Linked DNA regions of Homo sapiens: region 2 is linked to region 1. Evidence: fine-mapped expression QTL. Tissue or cell type: whole blood. Region 1 holds a variant in brackets; the other region holds the start of a gene. All regions are shown on one strand. Distances are between the middles of the regions.

Region 1 (8,099 bases):
CGTGAACCACCGTGCCCAACCTCAGGGTGCTTTTTTTCTTTCTTTTTCTTTTTCTTTTTTTTTTCTTTTTTTTTTTTTTTTTGAGAAGGAGTCTTGCTCTGTCACCCAGGCTGAAGTGCAGTGGCATGATCTCGGCTCACTGCAACCTCCACCTCTTGGGTTCAAGCAATTCTGCTGCCTCAACTTCCCGAGTAGCTGGGACTACATGTGCATACCACCATGCCCGGCTGCGCCTCTCCTCCTAGATGGACACTGAATTCCAGTGTTTGTCCCTCCAGCTCCATGAGTCTGAGAAGGCCCCACTTAGCTTCTCAGCCTCTTAGCTACCACATCCCTCTCAGCCTCCACCCCTTGAACCCCTTGACTTCCGGGCAGCAAAAGCATCGGGGCCAGTTGCTCCAAATTGGGTCTCACCTCCACACTTCCTTCTCTTTGGGGTGCTGGTCCTCGCTGACTTGGTGGTTCTCTGACACCTTTAAAGAAACTTCTTAAAACCTGGGTTGTTATCTGCAGGAGGGTTGGTCAGTTACAGAGTAGTCAGCCATGGCCATAAGCAGAACTCCGTTTCATCCACTTCTGGTGCCCCCCACCCCACATGACCCCCCACACATCTGGGGCACTAGAGAGATAGTGCCCATCAGAGAATTGTCTTTTGACAGTGGTCACTCTCACAATTTGCCGGCAAACATTCTGGGCATATAGGGCTGACTCATTCGGGACTTAGCTGCCATAGGCTTGGATTCTTGTTGGAAACAGCTGCTATAATTTATTCTGATGAATTACTGTTCCAAAGATGGTATTTCTGAGCTTTCCAAGAACACACTGGACATCAGTTCTAGTTACAGTGAAAGTGGGAGGCAGTGGAGAAGGGAAGCACTGGAAGCTCAGCGCTTGTCTGATCAGGTATATGATTTGTAGAGACCAAAAAAAGGTGACTTCTCCCATCCAAGTACTAACCAGGCCCGACCCTCCTTAGCTTCCGAGGTCAGACGAGATCAGGTGCGTTCAGGGTGGTATGGCCGTCGACAAAAAAGGTGACTTCTAAATAAACAATCCCTGTGTTCCCCTGGTGGTCTTCTGGAGGCAGCTGAAGGGCACCTGGATTGTGACATGCCCAGGGGCCCTGGGCTGTGTGTCTACCCTCCTCTGGCAGGGCCACTGCCTGGCTCACAGCCCGTGATGAGTGTGTGGCATGCAGTGGGCGCACAGGCATTGATTGAATCTTTTGAAGATAAAACTAAGCTATCTTTGTTCCATTCTCCTGCTCAGATCACCCGGAAGTTCAGGCTGAATTCTGAAGGCAAACTTGAGCAGACGGTCTCCATGGCAACCACGACACAGCCAATGACTCAGCATCTTCACGTCACCTACAAGAAGGTGACCCCGTAAACCTAGAGCTTCTGGAGCCCTCGGGAGGGCCTGGCTACTGTGCCTCAACGGTTCGGCTCCTCAACAGACAGTCCCTGCGGCAGAAGTGGGTGTGGCCGTGAGCCTCTGCAGGCTCAAGAGTGTTGTCCAGATGTTTCTGTACTGGCATAGAAAAACCAAATAAAAGGCCTTTATTTTTATGGCTGAGGATTTTGAATATTATCACTTGCGTAGGCTGTACATTTTTTTTTTATCTGCTGATGTTTGTTTTCCAAAGCGTTCCCTAAGAAATTAAGAAGGGGGCTGGGTGTGGTGGCTCACGCCTGTAATCCCAGTACTATGGGAGACCAAGGCTGGCGGATCACCTAAGGTCAGGAGTTCGAGACCAGCCTGACCAACATGGAGAAACCCCGTCTCTACTTAAAATACAAAAAATTAGCCAGGTGTGGTGGCGCATGCCTATAATCCTGGCTACTTGGGAGGCTAAGGCAGGAGAATCGCTTGAACCCAGGAGTTGGAGGTTGCAGTGAGCCAAGATCGCACCACTGCACTCCAGCCTGGGAGACAAGAGCAAGACTCTGTCTGGAAAAAAAAAAAAAAAAAAATTAAGAAGGGATGAATCTCTTTCCTTTTCTTTCTTCTTACAGTTTTGACAAGATCTAAAATATTTGTAAATCTTCTATAGAGTTGGCCGGGCGCAGTGGCTCACGCCTATAATCCCAGCACTTTGGGAGGCCAAGGCGAGGAAATGGCTTGAAGCCAGGAGTTTGGGACCAGCCTGGGCAACGTGGCAAAACCCCATCCCTACAAAAAAAAATAGAAATATTAGCCGAGTATGGTGGTCCATGCCTGTGGTCCCACCTACTCAGAAGGCTGAGGTGGGAGGATCCCTGGAGCCCGGGTGGTGGAGGTTGCAGTGAACCAAGATCACACCACTGCACTCCAACTTGGGTGACAGAGCAAGACCCTGTCTCCAAAAAAAAAAGATGGCAGTCATTTTCTCATTACTTTTAAAGAGCCGAGTCTATATTTTCCTACAGATGGAGCATTCCCAAGAGGCTAGCTGTGATCTTAACATCATCATGTAAGTTTTAGTTTGTAACTCTAATACAGCTTTCGTTTTTGTGGGGTTTTTTTCACTATGAAAGTTTCCAAACATACACTAAACCCTTGTACCTGTCACCCAGCTTCAGCACCTGCCAGCATTTTGCCCAAAGCACTTCCATCTTTTCCTCCCCCACTTCTGCGGGAATACACGTAAGCAAATTCCAGACATATTGTCACTTGCCCCTAAATCCTTTGGTAGGCATCACAAAACAACACAAAGCCATTTTCTTTCTCTTAACTCGTTGCCATATCAGAAGTCTCACCAGGCACATGGAGACGAGGCTACACGGGTGTTGGGAAGCAGAGTCAGAATAGGTAGCACACAGGCTGCGCAGGGTTAACATCCAGGGTAGCAACCGCAGGTACCACCTCCAGGGCTTGGGGACAAAAAGTATTACCAGGGTGGGGTTTCAGGGACCTCAGAGCTTACAGGATGTGCTTGGTTCTCGCAAGAGGGGCAGGAGGGCCTAGGACTGTACTCCAGGAGCCAAGGGGGCACCAAGGGACCTGGTGGCTGGGCTCAGAGCTGTCTCTGCTCCCAAAGTGATGCTGAAATAACCTGGGAACACCAGGGAGGTCCCAGCCCCAACTCCTGCATCCAGGGCTCCAGCACACCCAGCTGGAAGGGTGTGTGGAAGGGCAGCACTCAGGGCAGAGCACAGACAAGCCAAGAGACAAGAAGTCAATAACTGACGGCACAGTGCTGTTTTCACAAAATGCATAAGAATTCTGTAATGTTCTCTAACAGTCCTATTCGTATTTCCCTTACTGCCTAAGAAATATCCTCACACGATTGGATTATCAAAGCTTTATTCACGTTTGTGTTTGGCTACAAAGTCTTTTAGGATCCTTTTGATCCTAAAAGTCCCCCTCTTCCCTCCCCTGTGCCCTTGACTTGTTGGTGAAGCTGGTCACTTGTCCTCGAAGGTGTCCCCAGTCTGGACTTAGCATCCTCCTTGTAGTGTTTAACTTGTTCCTCTGTCCCCTCTATATCCTGTCGTCTGGAAGTTGGATCTAAAGTTGTGGCTGGAATCACACCCGGACGGTGCTCAGTTCCTCGTGTCACAGCCTCATGTCCAATTGTGTCACTTTGTTGAAGCATTAATAAGCTTGGATGGCGACAGCCTGACCCCTTTATCGTCAGTTTCCCCTCAACTGTTCCCCTGACAGTTTTGCCACCTGTGGGTGACCATTGCTAGAACCAGAACCTTCACTGGGACTGCAGAATTCTCGTCTTCTGTCTCATCAGAAGGACATTTAGTGGCTGGAATTCTCTCAGACCTTCCCTTTATCCATTAGGGTAAGTCAGGTTACCCTGAAGTGCGTTCATACTAGAAAGGCAGCATAAGCACTTAATTATTTCCCTTTAATGATCAATTTTTGGAGTAAGAATGTCCTGGCACCCTCCAGTGGTGCCAAAGGACTGGGAGTTCCTCACACCACTGCACTTACCCTTCCCGCTTCCCTACTCATGTTACGAGCTTAATGCTTTCATGTATACAGTCTGTCCTCAGTATCCACAGGGGTGCGTTACAGGACCCACACGGGTACCAAAATCAGATGCTCGAGTCTCTTGTATAAAATGGCATGGGATTTGCATGCAACTTATGCACATTCTCACATATACCTTAAGTCATCTCTAGATTGCTTATAATACCTGATACAGTGTAAATGCTCTGTACGCAGTTGTTATACTGTATATTTTTGGGGTTTTTTATTGTGGGCTTTTGGGGAATATTTTTATTTTTATTTATTTATTTATTTATTTATTTTTTGAGATGGAGTCTCGCTCTGTTGCCCAGGCTGAAGTGCAGTGGTGCGATCTCGGCTCACTGCAAGCTCTGCCTCCCGGGTTCATGCCATTCTACTGCCTCAGCCTCCCGAGTAGCTGGGACTACAGGCGCC[C/T]GCCACCACACCTGGCTAATTTTTTGTATTTTTAGTAGAGACGGGATTTCACCATGTTAGCCAGGCTGGTCTCGATCTCCTGACCTCGTGATCCACCCACCTCAGCCTCCCAAAGTGCTAGGATTACAGGTGTGAGCCACCATGCCCGGCCAGGAATATTTTTTATACACAGTTGAATCCACAGAAATGGAGGGCCAACTGTATTTGATATCATTTTAATCAAGTGCTGCGTATATCTTTGGCAAACAGGAGATGCTCAGATTATCTCGTAATTGGACAGAGGAGCCCCTCCATCCAGTGGGCTTTGATGCCTCCTTGCTCTGGGGCCACAGCTGCCTCTGACTTTTCCTGCCCAGAACCTGGAACTACCCATTTCTCCAGAGCCCTGGTTCTCGTTAGTGGGGAGTGGGAATTGGAGGGAGTGGGAATTGGAGGCCACAGACTGAGCACTGACTGCTTATGATGGCTGGGCTGCTCTACCTCCCAGCCTTTCCATGGACAAAACCAGAAAATTGTTCTAAAATTTATTTTCTCAGCTAGGCGCGGTGGCTCATGCCTGTAATCCCAGCACTTTGGGAGGCCGAGGTGGATGGATCACCTGAGGTAAGGAGTTCGAACCTGGCCAACATGACAAAACCCCATCTCTACTAAAAATACAAAAAATTAGTCAGGCATGGTGGCGGGCACCTGTAATCCCAGCTACTCGGGGGGCTGAGGCAGGAGAATTGCTTAAACCTGCGAGGCAGAGGTTGCAGTGAGCCGAGATCACACCATTGCACTCCAGCCTGGGCGACAGAGCAAGACACTCTCTCTCAAAAAAAAAAAAAAAAAAAAATTTCTGGTTTATTTTCTCTGAATCGTGAGGTTGTATTAGAGATCAGGACCCTTCACCCTTAACTACTTTAGCATGGGATATACACATGTATTTTTGAAAAATATGAATTCATACTGTTTTCCATTCAAATGTTAAGATTATAAGGGTTTTTAAATATTCTTTGATTTTACCTCTTAAGCTGAAAATCTTGGTTCATTACAACATTAACATTATTTGCTTTATTCTACATATAAATGCATATAATCATTTCAAAATAAGCCTGGGCAACATAGTAAGACCCCACCTCTACCAAAAAAGGTATTGTTAACAATGACTACTGGTCAAAGTTTTTTTCTGCTAGCTTTTTTAGACCTTTCCCTTTGAAGATACAAAGTTAAAATATGATGTAATTGGATTAACTACTCTGCGCTTCTGTCACCAACTTGATACACAAGTCCATTTGTTTAAATTCTAGAAATTGTTATAATTTGTTTTGCGAATACAAATCATTTGACTGGCTTTCTTGTCAGAACTGTAAAACCAGGCACATTTGCTCCACACAGGCCTCTAGCACAGCTACCGAGTGCTCCGGTAAGCTCGCCGTGGGTTAGCTCGCCGTGGATTAGCTCACCGTGGGTTAGCTCGCCGTGGATTAGCTCGCCGTGGGTTAGCTCGCCGTGGGTTAGCTCGCCGTGGGTAAGCTCGCCGTGGGTTAGCTCGCCGTGGGTTAGCTCGCCGTGGGTTAGCTCGCCGTGGGTAAGCTCGCCGTGGGTTAGCTCGCCGTGGGTTAGCTCGCCGTGGGTTAGCTCGCCGTGGGTAAGCTGGCCGTGGGTTAGCTCGCCGTGGGTTAGCTGGCCGTGGGTTAGCTGGCCGTGGGTAAGCTGGCCGTGGGTTAGCTGGCCGTGGGTTAGCTGGCCGTGGGTTAGCTCGCCGTGGGTTAGCTGGCCGTGGGTTAGCTCGCCGTGGGTTAGCTCGCCGTGGGTTAGCTGGCGGTGGGTTAGCTCGCCGTGGGTTAGCTCGCCGTGGGTTAGCTCGCCGTGGATTAGCTCACCGTGAGTTAGCCAGCAGATCCCCTCATGCTGGGCCTTGGGTTGTTTCCAGTCTTTGGCCAATCAAATGTCAGAGTTGGACCCAGCACCTCCGTTGGGACTGCAGAGTGCTTGTCTTCTAAGTCTGGTTAGAAGGGCATTTCCACATCCTTGTGGATTCTGGCCATCGTATCTTAAGGATACATTTCTGGAAGTGGGATTGCCAGTCGGCGGGGAGAGGCTCATCTGGCTTGTCTGGGTGTTGTCCCTGTCCCCAAGGGGCCAGGCGTTCTGCATCCCCACAGCATTGTAGGAAGTCCCTGCCCCCCTCAGCAGCCGAATCTGGTGTCAAATTTGGATTTGGGTCAATCTTGTAGGTGAGAAATGGAGTCTTGGGGTGGTTTTGGTTTGCATTTCTCTCTCTCTTTTTTTTTTTTAATCATTTTCTTGATTTTCCAAACTCATGAGCTCGTTTGAATAAGGAATATTAATCCTAATATTTCTCATTTTAAGTTATAATTTTTATTGAGGTAAAATATACATAAAACAACATTTTTATCAGAGTCCTATAGATGGTTAAAAAAATTCACCATTTTAACCATCTCTTAAAGTCTACAATTTAGCAGCATTTAATACATTCATAACGTACAACCATCACTTCTGTGTGCTTCCAAAGCCTTCATCACGCCAGAAGGAGACCCCGCGCCCGTTCAACACCATCCCCCCACCCTCAGTCCCCGACAGTCACTGCCCTGCTTCCCACTCAAGTCACCGACACTTTGAAAATGTGCTATGTTATAAAACTTTTTTCCCAGTATACATTTTGTCTTTTATCACTCCTGGGTTTTAAGTCATATTTAAGAAGATTTTGCCCACTCCCCGGTGATGAAGGAATTCACTTTTTCCTAGTACTTTTGACCCATTTGGAATTTGTCTTAGTGTATGGTATGAAGTGCAGATTCATTTTCGTCTTTCTCCAAGTGGTTAACGTTTAACCACTTGTATTAACAAGTCCATCCTTTCCTCACCGGTATCATATGCTACCTTATAGACTGAATGTTCTAGGCACTGGGGTCTGTCCCCGGGTTTTCATGTCCCTGGGCCTGCTTGCCTACATGGGTCCTGGTGTCATGTGGTTCCATTACGGAGGCCAGGAGATGGTTCGGGGGCAGAGGACCTCTCCATTTCTTTTGCAGAGTTTTCCTGGCTATTTTTACACTCCTGTGCACTTCCTCTCTCACATGAACTTTATAATTAGTTTTCTAGATCTGGGGAAAAGCATGCGGCGTTTTTATAAGGATTACATTACATTTATAAATTTACTTTTGTAGAATTGTCTTGCTTAGGAGAGTTTTCTTATCCAGGAACATGGTCTTTCTTTCTGTCTTAATTCATTTTCTGTTGCTATGACTGAATACCACAGAGTGGGTAAGTTATAAAGAAAAGAATTTTATTTCTTACAGTTCTGGAGGCAGGGAGTCCAAGGTATAGGAGTTGCATCTGGTGAGGACCTTCTTGCTGGTCAAGACTCTGCAGTCTCAAGTGGTGCCGGGCATTATGTGAGGGTCTCATGAGAGACGGCAAAGCTGGCTTTTATAACCAGCCCCCTGGTGATAACTGCTCCACTCCCTGAGAACCCATTAGTCCATGAATGGATTAGTCCTCATGAGCCAATCACCTCCCCAGAATCCCATCCCAGCACTGCTGCATTGGAGTCCAGGTTTCCAACACATGAACTTTTGGGGAATTCATTCAAACCATGGTGGTGTTAAAATCGACTTTGGTGTCTTTATGGTCTATTTAAAGTTTTTCCCATTTAGGGTTTCACATTTCTTTTACGCATGGGGATTTTTATCTTTTTGTTGCTGTTAAAAATG
Region 2 (8,099 bases), 270 kb after region 1:
AACAGGAAATCAATAAAGAGAAAAAATGAATTATGAGGGGGGGAAAAAGAAGGGTAAACAAATCCAAAAGCTGGTTTTCTTTTTGTTTTTTGAGATGGAGTTTTGCTCTTGTTGCCCAGGCTGGAGTGCACTGGCGCGATCTCAGCTCACTACAACCTCTGCCTCCTGGATTCATGCAATTCTCCTGCCTCAGCCTCCGGAATAGCTGAGATTATAGGTGCCCGCCACCACGCCCAGCTAATTTTAGTATTTTTAGTAGAGATGGGGTCTCACCATGCTGGCCAGGTGAAACTTCCTGACCTCAGGTGATCCTCCCACCCTGGTTTCCCAAAGTGCTGGGATTACCGGCCTGAGCCACCGTGCTTGGCCGCAAAAGCTGGTTTTCTAAAACAAATTCCTCACAAGCCCAATTCAGGAAAAAATAGCAAATATAGAAAAGTAGCTAAAATAATGACAGAGAAGACTACATGTAGCAAAATGGCCCCAAATCTGAAAATGCAGAAAAAATGGGCACTGTAAATTACCAATACAGAACCAAAAACTGGAAAATCTGACTAAAACAAGTATCACTAAGCAGCTGATTAAAGACATACCAATGAAAAGGACCAAGACTTGACGTTAGAGTTGAACTCCATCTAACCTTGGACAAGACCAAAGTCATTTAACTATTCCAAGCCTCTACAGAGAAAAGGGAAAACAATTTGTTTTATGAAGACAGCACAGTTTTAATAACAAACCCAGATGGAGACATAAGAAAGGAACAAAGGAATGAATGAACGCCATAGGCCAATCTCACTCACAAATATAAATGCAAAAATCCTGAATACAATATTTGCTAGCAATTAGATTCCAGGAATGTATCAAAAGCATCTACCAATATTAATCCAACAACACAGTATAGGGGAAAAAAAATCATGCATTAATAGATGCTGATGAGGCATATGAAATTCAGCAACCAATCATAATGAAAACAGTAAGAAAACTGCTGGCAGAGTGTGGTGGCTCACGCCTGTAATACCAGCACTTTGGGAAGCTGAGGCAGGAGGAGCGCTTGAGCTCAGGAGTTCAAGACCAGTCTGGACAACATGGTGAAACACTGTCTCTACAAAAAATACAAAAAAATTAGCTGGGTGTGGTGGCGGGCACCCGTAATCCCAGCTAAGTGGGAGACTGAGGTGGGAGGATCCCTTGAGCCCAGGAGGTGAAGGCTGTAGTGAGCCGAGATGGTGCTGCTGCACTCCAGCCTGGGTGACAGAGTGAGACTGTCTCAAAAAAAGAAAAAAAGGAAAACTGCTTAAATCTAATTCAGGATATTTCTGAAAACCAAAGGCAAATACTGTTTTCTAAACAATAGAAAATTAAATCTATTTAAATTACAACCGATAATTCGGCAGGAATGCCCTTCCATAATTATTTTTAAGCACTTACATGAAAACTTTTACATGAAGACCTATACAAAAAGCAAACAAAACCCCCATGTGCTATCCATTATCCAGCTTCAACAATTAGCAACTGAAGGTCAATAATGTTTCATCTATTTCCACAATCATCAATGCCACTGCCTGGATGATTATGAAGCAAATACGAGATGTAACATTTCATTTATATTCCACTACACATATCTAAAAATAAGGGCTCCTAAAAATGACAAACCATTACACATAGCTAGTTCTTTAATGCAATCAAATATCCAATCAGTATTCATATTCTCTATTCTCTCATTTTTTTCATGTGAATCAAGATCCAAGTAAGATCCAGATATTGCAATTTCACCATGATTATTTAATACTACCTTGGTGAGTTTACTGAATATAATGAAACAAGAAAATCAAAAGAAAACACTTTTTTGCTGATTGGACTGAATACACAGAAAATACAAATACTCGGCTGGGTGCGGTAGCTCATGCCTGTAATCCCAGCATTTTGGGAGGCCAAGACGGGCATATCACGAGGTCAAAAGATTGAGACCATCCTGGCCAACATGGTGAAACCCCGTCTCTACCAAAAATACAAAAATTAGCCAGGTGTGGTGGCGCCTGCCTGTAATCCCAGCTACCCAGGAGGCTGAGGCAGAATCACTTGAACCCGGGAGGTGGAGGGTGCAGTGAGCTGAGATCGCACCACTGCACTCCAGCCTGGCAACAGAGCAAGACTTTGTCTCAAAAAAAAAAAAAAAAAGAAAATACAAATACTCTGGTTAAAAAAATTCTAGAATACGATAATTTAGTAAGGTAGCTAAATATAAGATCTCAAGTAAGTCAAGTACCAGCAACAAATATCAAGGAATAGAAATGGGGGCACATCATTTACAACAGAATTTTTAAAAATCCAAACAAGTAGGGACCAAACTAGAAAACAGGTCCTACATAAATCAAATCATTTTTATTTTCCCCAAATGAGTATGTTATTTAGTCCATTTCTAACTGGAATCCCTAACGGTGTGGCTTTTTTCTTAAAGGATTGGATAAAATGAGCTTTAAGTTCACATGGAAAGATTAAATGCCAATGCTGAGGATAGAAAAGAGCAGGCACTTACCTTATCACCTATTACATGTATCTGATTTCAAACCCACACAGTGCAACATAGAAATACCATAGAGCACCTCTCCCGCACCTCCACAGAACCCCTCAGCCTCACTGAACCCTGTGCACACATATGGGAAAATGGAGAAACTATTTGTCTTAAACTGACATTTCAACTTTGCTTTGACTTTACCAAGTTTCTCCTGCCATCTTTTTTTTTTCCTGTTTTTTTTTTTCTGAAACATAACTTGGATCCACAATGTTTTCTCTCATAATTTATTAACTAATGTGAAATGGAAGGTGAAAGAGGAATTATGAACCTCTGAAGCACATGGTTTTCAGTGAGAAAGCCTTGATCCAGCAACACAAACTGCCAAGCACTGTGATTAACTTAAACACTGGGTGCAAATTGGACCAAAAATGTAGTCAAATGAAAATTTTGTTCCTTCAGATCGTGTTTATTCCACATGCCAGAAGTTGTTTAAAGTTCTTTAATCTTGACCCACAGCTTATTTCTTCCACAGAATAACCCCAATACACATAAAAAACCAATTTTCGCAAAACAAAAGATAGAAGATGAACAACATCTGGCGATGTAGAACCCGGAAGGTCCATGATCTTATTCAAAGCATCTGGATTCTTTGGATTCGGGGAAGGTCCACGTTCAGTATACCCACATAACACTCCTAACAGGGACTGGGGCAGGGATAAGTGGCATGTATGACTACTAACAGAACAGACAATACAAATGGCCTTACCTCACCTCTGCTGCCAAATGAGTTTTGGTGTCCCCATTCCTCCAGACAAAAAAAAAAAAAAAAATACCCACAACTTCTTCTTTTACAGCAGTTTCTGTATGCTGGTATTGGGGATAAAAAGGGGCCCTGAATTACATTTATGAATGATAGAGGGAAACCCTGGCCCCTTTCCCTAGGTCACCTTGCTAGTTTAAGAGCCAGTCAGAATGTAAATCTGATCTAATTAAAACGCTCTTGTTCTTTATTCCTGGCTGTGGCACTGGTGAGAGAAATCAAGGTGGAAGTTGAGGAAAAAAAATCAGGACAACCTTTATAGCTAATGAGATCAATGCCAAGATTATACATAACAGTACACATCATGAGTTAGGATGCTGGGTGGTGCAAAGAACCCATTAATGGGAGCTATCAAAAATCACTGAAAACAATGAGGCTCAAATCAGAAGTATCAAGAATCAGCTTTCATGACCCCTACACCATGATGTTTTTCTTTATGACGGCAGAACTATTTTGAAACATTAAATATATCGGCAGGCACTGTGATTCAAAAAGTATTTGAGAACCTACTAGGTGCTAGACACCAACCGAGGCAATGAGTATGGGTGACAACATGTGCCCTGCCCTCACAGCACCAATAGTCCACTGGACAAATACCATCTGGAACATCAGGTAAACACCTAAGCCTGTCTGGAGGAAATCTAATTTGGGCGGAATCCCACAAGCACAGACTAGGTAAGGAGAAGGCAGTTAAGGTGGGAAGTAGCCAGATTTAAGAGTTTGGGCAATGGCCAAAGGTGCAGAAGTTTGAACTACAAGAAGTTCAGTGTAGTTGGTTCGTGTGTTTCCGTGGAGAGAGGACAAGGTCTGGTGGCACTGACAAGAATTAGACCGAAAAGGTAAAAAAGCAAGCCAGGTTTGTCTGGGCCAGTAGGCCAGGTCACAGTTGGGACTCCACTGAGACCACGGAAGCCACAGGTTTGCTCCTCATCCCCGGGCCAACTCGGCGGCCTCCAACCCTATACCCTACCCCCTGCTGCCTGTCCGTGCCTCGCTGGTGCAGACCTTCGTCGCCTCTCCTCGCCGAAGGTACCCGCAGACAGGGCCTAGTCGCTCTCCCCTCGCTTATCCACGGCATCCAGCCGATGGGCTTGGAGGTTTGGGGGCTGGCCAGTCCTCCACGCCTCAGGGAGGAAATGGCACCGTTAGAAAGACAAGATGGCCACACAAGCTCTAAGTGTTTGTCGGGCCTAAACCTGTATCCTCCCTCCAAGCACCAAACCTCCCGACCTCGACCGCACTCGACGCCCCGAGGCCCAGCACCGACGACAGTGCAGAGGAATTCCCGCAGGGTCAACAAGGGGTCACCGGAATCCCCACTCCCGCGCCCGGGCCTGCCCGTGTCGGAGCCACTGTCGCCGGCACTAGGACCGCCCGGGACGGGGGAGCCCACGATAAGTGCCGAAGAGCCTGGGCTCGGCCGCCCCTCCCCCACACCGCCCCGCCGGCACCCCAGAGCCAGCCGACCACCGCCCGAGAGTATGGGACGAGCGGCGCGTCCCCCGCAGCTCCTCGGGAGGGCCGGCCCACAACTTGTGCGGGGTACACCGGCGAGACACTCACCCGCCAAACAGCCCGAGAACAGGCGCCGACCGACCGCGCCGCGGACCCGCCCAGCGCTCGCGGTCCGCTCACAGCCCGCCCCAGCCCGCCCCGCCCCGCCCAGCGCGCAGGCGGATTGCGTCACCGCGTCACCCCGCCCCTTTGCCAACTGCTTCCTGGCTCAGTGCGACCTGGCCTTCTTCCCCTCCCCCATGCGGCCGGCTTCCGAGTGCGCAAGCCCAGAGTCGTCCGCGTTGTCCGCCTCTGCGCAAGCGCCGTGCTCCTCCCACGGCAGTTGGCCATATAGAGGCTGGGGGTGGGGGGGGAGGTCAAGCGTAGCCTCTTCTCCTTTACCAAGATGGCGGCTTGTCCCTGTTTCGCCACAGTTCCTACCTTATGAGCTCGGTTTTCTTATGCTTATAAGAGTGGAACAGGTAATGAGAATCTTCGCCTTGCGGTGGGTAACTGGAGTGGGGGGAAGGCCGTTTGTTAGAAGGAGACAAGTGCCCACTGAGGAGGAGAGAGGCGGTCGCGGGAGGGCAGGTGGTGGCGGGAGTGCGGAGCGATCACGGGGAGGGGGAGCCTTCGCCTCTCCTCCTGTCCTCCAAGAAGATGGCGGCAGCACCGAGCTGGGGCGCCGAGTACGACTGGGCGGGGGACGGCGAGCGGCCGCGCGAAACTCGTCTAGCCCACCACCGCCGCCGTCTCGATGATCGGGGGGCCTCTCTGGGATTGGCTGCGCGCACGTCACGTGGGGCCGACGGGCCCTGCGCAGACCATCGAGTCGGGCGTCCCTCCCCGGGGACGTGGCCTTCCTGTGCCCGGGCTGGGGCCCGCCGCCCCGCGGGGGAGGGCGGAGCTGGCGCGGCCCCTAGCTTTCTCCTTCTGGTGTGGGGCCCGAGGTGAGACCTGGGGAGTGCTCCGCGAGCCCACGAGCAGCGACGTGGCTCGGGGACGGGAGGGTGCCGTGCCTGGCTGCGGCCTGAGCGGGATGGGCGCGGGCGGCTCCGGCCCGCGGGTTGTGCCCCGGCCCGGGGTGTCCTTTCCTCCCTCCCGCGTGGCCTGGAGGCACTGCAACTGTTCGAGACTCACGTCAAGGCTTGGCGCAAATACCCCTCGTTCAGGAAGCCTTCCTAGGTTTCCCCCGCTTAGAGGAAACACTTCCTGAGTTCCTAATGGCTGACCCGCATGGTGTTGGGAACCTGAGCCTTTCTGACACCGTGGCATGTTGCTAGGGTATTTTTGTGCGTAGCTCCTTTGAAAAGTGGTTAGGTGCTCAAGGCTAGCTGCTACATATCCTCTCCATTCGACTTAAAAAATGAGAGGGTCAGACTTGACATGGTGTTTGGACGCCATGTAAAATCGAAGGAAGTCGACTTGGGCTTTGCTTATTAAACAGTGCCTATTATGGTGAAATTAAACGGCTGAAGGAATGTGGATGAGTCGTAATCTTAAGGAACATGACGATTTGCCCCTCAGTTTTGCGTTTTATGTCCTCAGATTCATAGCTACCTATACCCTAAGCCCTCAATCAATGACTTCACATTTATTTGGTGTCTGCTTAAGGATAGTCACTTTCTTAGCAGCTAACTTCCTTAAAACCCTATTAAGATAGGTTAAGTCACAATTAGGGTTTTGTCTAAGGCTCCTGGTAGCGGCACATTGCATAATAAGCTTAATGTTCATTTAGGGAAGCAAATCTGGGATGCTGAAACACTGGATGAAACGTAGTGCTTAGGTTTATATTTTGATTTTTTGACATGTAAAAGTATCCCTAGGCTAAATTCATTAAGTACACATGATATTAGGATGCTTGGCAACAGTATTTAAAAATAGTTGAAAAGGTGTTTGGGTAAGAATTATTTCCATCATTTGGATTACCGAATCTCTGAGTCTGAAACATCAACCTATCAAGTTTTAGACTTGGGGAAAATGGAGCTGGAGCCTACTGCCTCAAGTCTCAGGGACAGCGTTTGAAACCCCATTAAATAATTCATCATGAGGATTAAACTTTCCTGTTACTGCTATTAGTTTTGCTTGGTGCCAAGCACTGTTGAAGGGACTTAGCTCATCTTATCAGGAGTCAAATTAACGTCATTCGGGTAAAAGTGCATTGAGTGTAAGGAGAGCACCTCAAAGATATAGTTGACCTATATCACGTCCCTCAGCGCCACTAGGCTTACTTGAATCCCTGTTACAGTGTCCTCTCCAGTGGGCAAAGCTAACTTCTCAGTGGCCTGGTGGGAGAATTTCTTCTTGAGTAAATACGTATTTTTCCAGGTTTTGTTGTTTTGGCCTTCCAGTTGTCTGACTTCAGCCTCATGACCTCACTTCTTCATTTCAATTCAAAAAAATATTTGCTGGAAATTGCTGTGTAGGGTTAAGGGTTCTGCAGATACAAAGGTTGAGAGGATATAGTCTTTTCGACCAGGTGCAGTGGCTCACGCTTGTAATCCCAGCACTTTGGGAGGTCGAGGCGGGTGGACACTTGAGGTCAGGAGTTCGAGACCAGCCTGACCAACATGGTGAAACCCTGTCTCTACTAAAAATACAAAAATTAGCCTGGCATGGTGGCGCGCGCCTGTAATCCCAGCTGCTCAAGAGGCTGAGGCATGAGAATCGCTTGAACCCAGGAGGCGGAGGTTGCAGTGAGCCGAGATTGTAGCACTGCACTCTAGCCTGGGCGACAGAGTGAGACTGTGTCTCAAAAAGCCAACAAAAAAAGAGGATATAGACTTTTCTTTTCCTCAGGCAGCTTGTGGTCTAGTGTGAGAGACTTATTTGTAGAAGAGTAATTACATTATGGTGTGATAAGTGCAATGATAGAAATATGTGTAAGGTGTGGACATAGGAAATAGGCAGTGGTTACCTGTTGGAAAGTCTTCCTACAGAATGTGGTCCTTGAACTGCGGTTTAAAAGACGAGTAAGAGTTTTTCCAGGTGGTGCTGAGTGGACAGGAAGACTAGGAAAGAGGAGGCTGACATTTATAGTTGGTGGCATACGTGAGCAACAGGTTTAGAATTTGGTATACTCTTGCCATGGCAAATGGTAGAGGGCTTGGCTCAGACTGTGTACTGAAGGACTTGATGCCCTTCAGTGAGTTTTATCTAAGATACTCTGACCTGAACAGAATTTGAGATGATTGTGCCGGGTCCACTGGGATATCTTACGATCCTTCGTGGGTCATATGGATTCTCCATTAGTGCGTCCCAGCTGAAACT

Evidence for each region. PIP is the estimated chance that this variant, and not a neighbour inherited with it, causes the effect.
Region 2: SEPTIN2 starts here. The variant in region 1 is fine-mapped to the expression of SEPTIN2 in whole blood (INTERVAL, PIP 0.92).

The regions. Positions count from the first base shown.
Region 1 is chr2:241,577,896-241,585,994 of GRCh38, reverse strand. It overlaps THAP4 (THAP domain containing 4), which reads left to right. Exons shown (of 6, transcript NM_015963.6): 6 at 1,270-1,590. The coding sequence ends at 1,389. It also overlaps the pseudogene RNA5SP122. Among named protein-coding and RNA genes, the nearest start is that of BOK-AS1, 23 kb to the right of the region's middle. RefSeq lists enhancers at 1,168-1,696, 5,524-6,023, 6,024-6,525. The variant C/T (reference allele first, on the strand shown) is at 4,381.
Region 2 is chr2:241,312,782-241,320,880 of GRCh38, reverse strand. SEPTIN2 (septin 2) reads right to left here and starts at 4,956. Exons shown (of 13, transcript NM_004404.5): 1 at 4,899-4,956. It overlaps HDLBP (high density lipoprotein binding protein), which reads left to right and starts at 5,209. Exons shown (of 28, transcript NM_005336.6): 1 at 5,209-5,311. RefSeq lists enhancers at 3,759-4,483, 4,434-4,493, 4,484-5,208, 5,134-5,233, 5,254-5,303 and 1 more and silencers at 4,684-5,033, 5,574-5,953.